2 linked regions of the Homo sapiens genome follow. The gene in region 2 interacts genetically with the main gene of each other region. Each region holds a gene or a part of one and is shown on either strand. Other genes may lie near its edges.

Region 1 (4,120 bases), on a different chromosome or scaffold from region 2:
TGGGAGCTAGCATGGCAAAAGCCAGGCACTGTGCCAGGTGAGAGAGACCCAGAAATTAAAACCAGAGAAGTCATTAATAAGAGTCTAAATATCTGGGCCCAGGCTCATGCCTGTAATCCCAGCACTTTGGGAGGCTGAAGGAGGTGAATCACTTGAGGTCAGGAGTTCAAGACCAGCCTGACCAAAATGGTGAAGCCCCATCTCTACTAAAAATACAAAAAATTAGGCGGGCATTGTGGCACACGTCTGTAATCCCAGCTACTTGGGAGGCTGAGGCAGGAGAATCACTTGAACCCAGGAGGCAGAGGTTGTAGTGAGCCAAGATCGCACCATTGCACTCCAGCCTGAGTGACAGAGCAAGACTCCATCTCAAAAAAAAAAAAAAAAGAGTCTAAGGATCTGATGGAGGAGAAAGGCAAGAACATGTGCGAGACAACGCAAGGCCATCGTCCCAGGGTGCCCAGGGTAACCACGGGGGTAGGGCACTCCCCGGAGAGGCCAATGACAAGCAGGTTGAACAAAGCAGGGGGGCTCCCTGCAGGAGGAGGTTCACCAGGTGAAGATGGAGCCGCATGGGCAAAGGCCATTCCAGAGACCCAGGTGTGTTCAGGAGGTGGAAACCCATTGCAGGTAAGGTGAGAGGACCGGGTGGGGTGGTCTAGGAGGAGCCGACAGAGGGTACAAGCTGTGAAACAGCTTGAAGCAGGGCAGTGAGGAAAGGGATCTAGAGGAGGAAGACACGTGGACAGATGGGGCTGGCTGGGGGCTGCCGCAGGATCTTATGCAAGAGGTTCTAACACCAGAGCTTCAGGCTCTGAGCTCCGCGGAATCAAAGGTCTCAGAAAGCAACCTATTAGGATCTGGTGGTTGACAGCCTGCAGCAGGGGGTGAAAGAGGAGCCCAGAGCACCCTCCGGTCCCTGTCCCTGCCTTGGGGCATAGGAGGGGAGGAACTCAGTCTGGCCACACTGGCTCAGGTGAGGGCGCCCCAGGGGAGGCCGAGAGGGGCTGTTCTCTTGTCTGCTTTGCTATCAGGGACTGCCTCGAGATGTCTTTGGAGAAAGTGTTCCTGGCTTGCTGGGAAGGATCCGTGTTCAGCTCCCGCTGCCCAGCAGCTTCCATGGGAACCTTGCCCTCCTGGGGTCTGGATCCATCGCGACGTGAAGGTGATCATCGCCCACCCCCGGGACACTGTGGGGGTCAAGAGAGGCCCCGTGGTGAGGGAGGATCATCATCCTGGGGGTCGGGGGGGTTTCCTCCTCAGGGAGGAAGATTTCCAGCCCCGGTGCTCTGCCTCCGGCAGACTCTGTCTTGCCCACCCGCTTTGTCTTTGTCGCATGATGGAAATAAATGGAAATGGTTTCCACACACGAATGCACTAAACTGTAATCACAATTTTCTAGATTTCAGTTGTAACAGGATCATGGACCTGAGTGACCCGCAAAGACGCTCTGAGCCTTGAGCCAGAGGGTGTGTGGGGTGGGGAGGGGAGTTTGCCACGGCCTCTGTGATCCCACAGCACAGGGGGCAGAGCTGGGGGCTGGGGTGGGGGCAAGGGCGCAGGCAGATGGGCCTGGGGGTGGCCAGCACGGGGACCCACCCAGTTCGTTCTGTACACCGAGGCCACTTCCTCTCTCGGGTTCCAAAGCTCCCCCGCTCCCTGCCATGGGCTTGGGGGTCTTCCCACTGCAGCCCAATGCTGGCTGCTCTTCTACGCTGCCCAAGCCCACCCCTCAGGCCCGGTACCCCACAGCAGAGATCAAGAGGTGGCTGGAGGGCAGTGGGGGCACGGACAGCACCACTGGGCGCTCCCTCTTCAGGCCTCTCTGGAAACCCTTGCTTTGGAAACGTAGAAAGCCCTTTCTCCTGCCCCCACCTTGAAACTGTACCTAATAACGGCAAATAAGTTATTCAGCTCCCCACAGCTGGCAAAGTGCAAGTCGCAGATGCTGCCACACAGCATTTCCTGACAGCCCTAGGGCAGACCGTTGATCCATTCTGCAGGTAAAGGAGTTGAGATGCAAACACTTCCCAAGGAAGCAAGAATGGCCTCCTCCTCCACTCCCTAGAAGGACCCAGGGCAACCGATCCACTTGACAACACCAGGGAATATGGGTTGCCAGCCACGCACTCATGAGAGAGGTGGCTTTGACTCCCAGAGCATGGATCCCAGGGGAGCCCAGGAACCTGTAGGAGAGGGTCTCCCAGTTGGCCACCACTGGGACGGGCATTCGGGCCTGTGGGAGAGGGTCTCCCAGGTGGCCATCACTGGGACCGGCATTTGGGCCTATCTGGATGGGCCTTGGGAGGGTCTGCCCCTGGGGGAGATGTTGGCATGAACAGTCAAAAGCACTATTCTGAGACCCCACGCCAACACTTCCTCTTTGAAACATGACACTTGGGAGGATTGTATAGTCTTCCTAACACAGGAAAACAGCCCCGACTGAAGGCAGCCCCCTCCTCGTCGCACTTCTCGAAGGTCTCCGGGGGCCCTGCCACCCTGAGTTACTCTCCACCTGCTTTTGCCGATCCTGTAAATTGGATATACTTTTAAGGGCCTAGAACAGCACCTGGCACAAAACAGGTGCTCAAAAATATGTATGTAAAACAGTGGCTCCTGGCGGAGGCTGCCAGAGCTGGCTGTGGCCCCACAGAGCAGGAAGAAGCACGCCTTACCTGTCTGGGCCTCGGCCAGGGTGCCGAGGGCCAGCATGGACACCAGGACCAGGGCGCAGATCACCTTGTTCTCCATGGTGGCCATTGCCTCCTCTCTGCTCCAAAGGCGACCCCGAGTCAGGGATGAGAGGCCGCCCGAGCCCCGGATTTTATAGGGCAGGCTCTGTTTGCTTAAAGAGCGTTAGATAACATTTGCCTAAGGAGGCCCGGGGATCCTCTGAGACAATAATCTCCACTGATTTTTATCAAAGGTGTTTCCTAGACATGGTCAAGCTACATGGAAGGATTTGCTGATAGACAGAGACGACATGTGGTGAGGTCATCTTGGCTGAGGGATCTGAGATTCAGAAAGTCCCTCTTTCCCATGGGAGTCTCCTCCAACCTGACCTTAATCCAGGTCCTACTCATATCTGAGAGGCCCTCCCGCCAGGGTAAATACTGTACTCACTGCAGAAGTGATTCATAGTGAGAGATGGCCGGAAAAAGGCTTGGCCGTGACAACAGTGGCTCACGGGGTGGCCACCGTGACCTTGCAGGGGGAAGGGAAGGAGCTCATGAAGCCCATTCCGTCTAGGCCTAAGCTAATTCTTTTACAGTGGAATTGTTTTAATAATGAAATTGTAGGCCTGGCGCAGTGGCTCACGCCTGTAATCCCAACACTTTGGGAGGCCAAAGCAGGCGGATCACTTAAAGTCAGGAGTTTGAGACTAGCCTGGCCAACATGGCGAAACCCCGTCTCTACAAAAAAAAAAAATACAAAAATTAGCCAGGCATGGTGGCGGGTGCCTGTAATCCTAGCTACTCTGGAGGTTAAGTCAGGAGAATCACTTGAACCTGGGAGGCGGAGGTTGCAGTGAGTCGAGATCACCCTACTGCACTCCAGCCTGAGCGACAGATTAAGTCTCCTTCTGGGAGGGGCTGGGGGCAGGAGGGAGAAAAAAATAGTATATACGAGCTGCCATCAAAAACTGACAAAGTGAACGTGGTTCACTCCCCTGTGTCTATGGGGCTCCCTCCCTCCCCCTCCCACACCTTCCCAGTTGGTCCCCTGGACTCCTGTATTTTAGAGGACAGCCTCCTGCTCTCCTGTACCATGCCTCACTCCCCTCCCCTGCTCGGAGCTTTCTCTTTCATAGCTCTTATTACCTCCTGGTGGATAAAACAAGTGACTGACACATTATGTTGGTTATTTATTCATTGCACTCCTCCCTGCAGCAGACGGGAGGGCGCATGGGAGCAGAAGTCCTCATCTCCTAGTGCCTTGAGGTGGCCCCAGACCCTAGAACAGTGGCTTTGATTGGCATTCGAGAAACAGCTGTTGAAGAGCTGCATGAAGAAATGGACAACAGGAGAAATCTTTTCTTCTTCAGTGAGAAATTAGGCCCTGAGGAAAATGCATGCTAGCCTAACAAAGGTACTATCTTTTCTTGGGTGACCTAGTCAGT
Region 2 (3,500 bases):
AAGCCTGGCTAATTTTTGTACTGTTTTGTAGAGACAGGGTTTTGTCATGTTGGCCAGGCTGGTCTTGAACTCCTGACCTCAGGTGATCCACCCGCCTCGGCCTCCCAAAGTGCTGGGATTACAGGCATGAGCCACTGTGCCCGGCTTATTTCCTCTTTTAAAACTTACTATTATTATTGTCATTCTCAAACTATTATCTCATAAACGTTATATTGTCTATATCAGATATTCAGTGTGGGCTATGTTTTTTAAATAACAGATGGTATTTGAATATATAAAAGATATAAATCCTTTTCAAAATGTTGCTTTGTCTATTTTTCTGAAAAGTTTGACAACCATCTGTAGAGCTTTTGCAGAAGACTTTTTTCTTCCCTCACTTTTAGTCTCTTTAAAATCAATGACTATTTTTATTCTGCTTGGTCAGGCAAGTAGGCCTTTGATTTACAACAGCTGTATTCCCATGGAACACACACAAACACACATACATATAATTTCATTTTTGCCTTTATAATTCTTTTTTTTAATTATCAAGTAAGAAGACATAGTTTATTGGTCTAAGGATTTTGGAATCATTCAGGTCTTTTAAACGAACATGATGAAGTTACAGAGTGGTTTTGTTACACATCTCATTGCCATAATTTTGTCTAGCTCTGGCTTTAATAATTGTATTTTAACTATTGCTAGCCTGTGTATAATATTTTCCTTTCCTTGACTTCTCCATTTTATTCCTAAATTCAGAAGATTATTGATGTGAATTCTTCAACCACTGGTAATGTATTTGAGCTTAATTCCAGTTGTTTAAAATGCTCTTCAACATTATTATAAAAATGTCATGATGGGAATCTACTGATACACATGAAAATGTCTGTACTTGAGTTCAGCAGTGCTCCAGAGCTAATATTCCCAAGATTTCATAAGGGAAAATATATGTTTACAGGAAAATAAAACTGAACAGCAACCAAGAGTTGGCTCTCAAATATATGACCATTAGTTTCTTTGCTTGTTTGTTTGTTTCTCTTTCCCTATAATATAAGAACAAGGCAATAACAAATATAAAGAAAAAACTTACAGCCATATTACAATTAGATTCCAACAATTAACTTATAATGTATCTGCTTCATATGAAAATGCTAAAATATGTAGGTACTCAAGAAAACTTTTCATTCTGAAGATGACCAGAAATTTTTGTTTGCCAGTTCGACTGACACTGAAAACCTACATTTGCCTATTATTCTCCATGCTTCCATGTAAACTAATAACCACTCAACCACCAAAATGGTGGCCTCTAACAAGGCTGGGTTCTGGTACTGCTGGCTCCTTATTCTACGGCCCACATGTTTATATACTGATAGATGCAAATACATGTAAGATTCTCTAAGGCCAGACATAAGTTCACTTGGCCTATAACAGAGCAGTGACCCTTGAAATGCAAGTACAAACTCCACATTTTTTTAGTTTCATATAAAACATTTCATGCTTCATAGGAAACAATTAATTTCATCTATTAAAAGAAACCAAATGAGAAAACCTCCAACTAAATCTATCACTCATTTAACCTATAAGCCCAGAAAAAAAATTTAGCTTCTTCTTGCCTCGGTTTATCTACATTAGCTCCTGAACGAATACACTGGGGCAGGGAGAAAGTCATTTTCTAGTCTTGTTGCCATACAAACTTGAGTTCTTCTCCCTGAATAACAGGAGTAACAGTCCAATTTTACCAGAACACCAGTTCTGAGAGAATCAACTGAAGGAACAAGGTATCACTTCAGCCACTGTGTCTTTCTAAAAGTTTCTTTCAGGGATGATACCTTAATTTATTTTTCCATTGCCTTTCTCTTTCTCCTAAAACACTAAGCATACACCAGGTTGGATAAATAATTGGCATTCAGTAAATACACTTATTATTATCTTTTTAATCCATAAAGATCTTTCTCTTTTTTTGTGTGGTTTATTTTTTATGACACGGTCTTGCTCTGTCACCTGGGCTGGAGTGCAGTGGCACTCCACACAAACATGGTTCACTGTAGCTTTGACCTCCTGGACTCAAGCCATCCTCTCACCTCGGCCTCCCCCATAACTGGGACCACAGGTGTGTGCCACTGCATCCAGCTAATTTTTAAAAATTTGTTGTAGAGACAGGGTTTCGCCACGTTGCCCCGGATGGCCTCAAGCTCCTGGGCTCAAGCAATCCTCCCACCTCAGCCCCAAAAAGTGCTAGGATTACAGGCACGAGCCACCACACCGAATCTTAAAAATCTTTTTAAGATAAAATCGTTTGATTAATAATTGAGATGTTTTCAACAAAGGTCATTAATATTACAAACTTTTGTAGTTCATTTAGTGTTAAAAGTTTCTGCTACTGTGAACATACACTATTAAATAGTTTTACCATGTAGTGTCCACCCTAAATCTTTTTGGTAAATGAGATGGGTTAAAAATAAATTATGTCAATTTAAGAATTTCAGTCTTCTAGATTCTGATTTAAAAATATTATTTCCTAATCTCCTGGAAAATTACAGTGTATTGATACTGAAAATGAACACATCTCCTGTAACCTTGAAACCAATTACATAACATGTTATTGCTTCTTTTTCCCCCACTATTTCTCCCATGACATCACAACAAGTTCTTGAAAAGCTATTGACTCTTAAAAGCTGCGCTTCGCATTCTTACCTGGCACCCTCTTCGCCCAGTTGATCATGTGAACCAGCTCCCTGTCTGCCAGGTTGGTCAGTAAGCCCATCATCGAAGCTTCACTGAAGGGTCTGGTAGGATCATACTCGGAATAGAGTATCGGGGGCTCAGCATCCAACAAGGCACTGACCATCTGGTCGGCCGTCAGGGACAAGGCCAGGCTGTTCTTCTTAGAGCGTTTGATCATGAGCGGGCTTGGCCAAAGGTTGGCAGCTCTCATGTCTCCAGCAGACCCCACTTCACCCCTGCCCTCCCCATCATCTCTCTGGCGCTTGTGTTTCAACATTCTCCCTCCTCTTCGGTCTTTTCGTATCCCTGAAAACACAGGTGGAAAAAAAAATTAGTTTATTTTTTTCCCGTGTAAACTTTTATACAAAAAATTTTCAAAGCTAACCAGCTTTCATTTTATTTGAAGAAATACTTTCAAGCACAGGTGAGCTGGTAAGTGTTCAACAAGTGGCTCTCCAAGAGAAGAAGAAAAAGATTTCTATTTGTAGCAGTTTTCATGGTGTAAATACTACCACCATAACATGCCAATTTTCATGGTGTAAATACCACCACCATAACAAACTTCAGGCCACTTGTCTGACATCAAATGGCTTACAAAACTCCTGAAAATTGAACAGTAGGCTTTGGTGAGCCCATACAAACTGATTCCGACACACTAGGTAGGGGTGTGTGTGTAACAGGTGTTATAAAAAGAACAGAATTCTAATTTTAGTTATTCTTAAAATAGAATTTAGCATCCAAGACTACTTCTGCTAGGAATATTCTTTTAATAGTAAATTAAAAGGGCATTTTTAAAA

The links.
Region 1: of ESR1 (region 2) and TFF1, changing one enhances a phenotype caused by changing the other (phenotypic enhancement), as found in Homo sapiens cells (one study listed by BioGRID).

The regions. Positions count from the first base shown.
Region 1 is NC_000021.9:42,363,736-42,367,855, forward strand, and holds the start of TFF1 (trefoil factor 1 precursor), read right to left. Parts: upstream 2,801-4,120; 5' UTR 2,761-2,800; coding exon 2,676-2,760; intron 1,378-2,675; exon of another isoform or gene 1-1,377. UniProt on the Homo sapiens protein: Stabilizer of the mucous gel overlying the gastrointestinal mucosa that provides a physical barrier against various noxious agents. May inhibit the growth of calcium oxalate crystals in urine.
Region 2 is NC_000006.12:151,943,682-151,947,181, reverse strand, and holds part of ESR1 (estrogen receptor), read right to left. Parts: intron 3,010-3,500; coding exon 2,674-3,009; intron 1-2,673.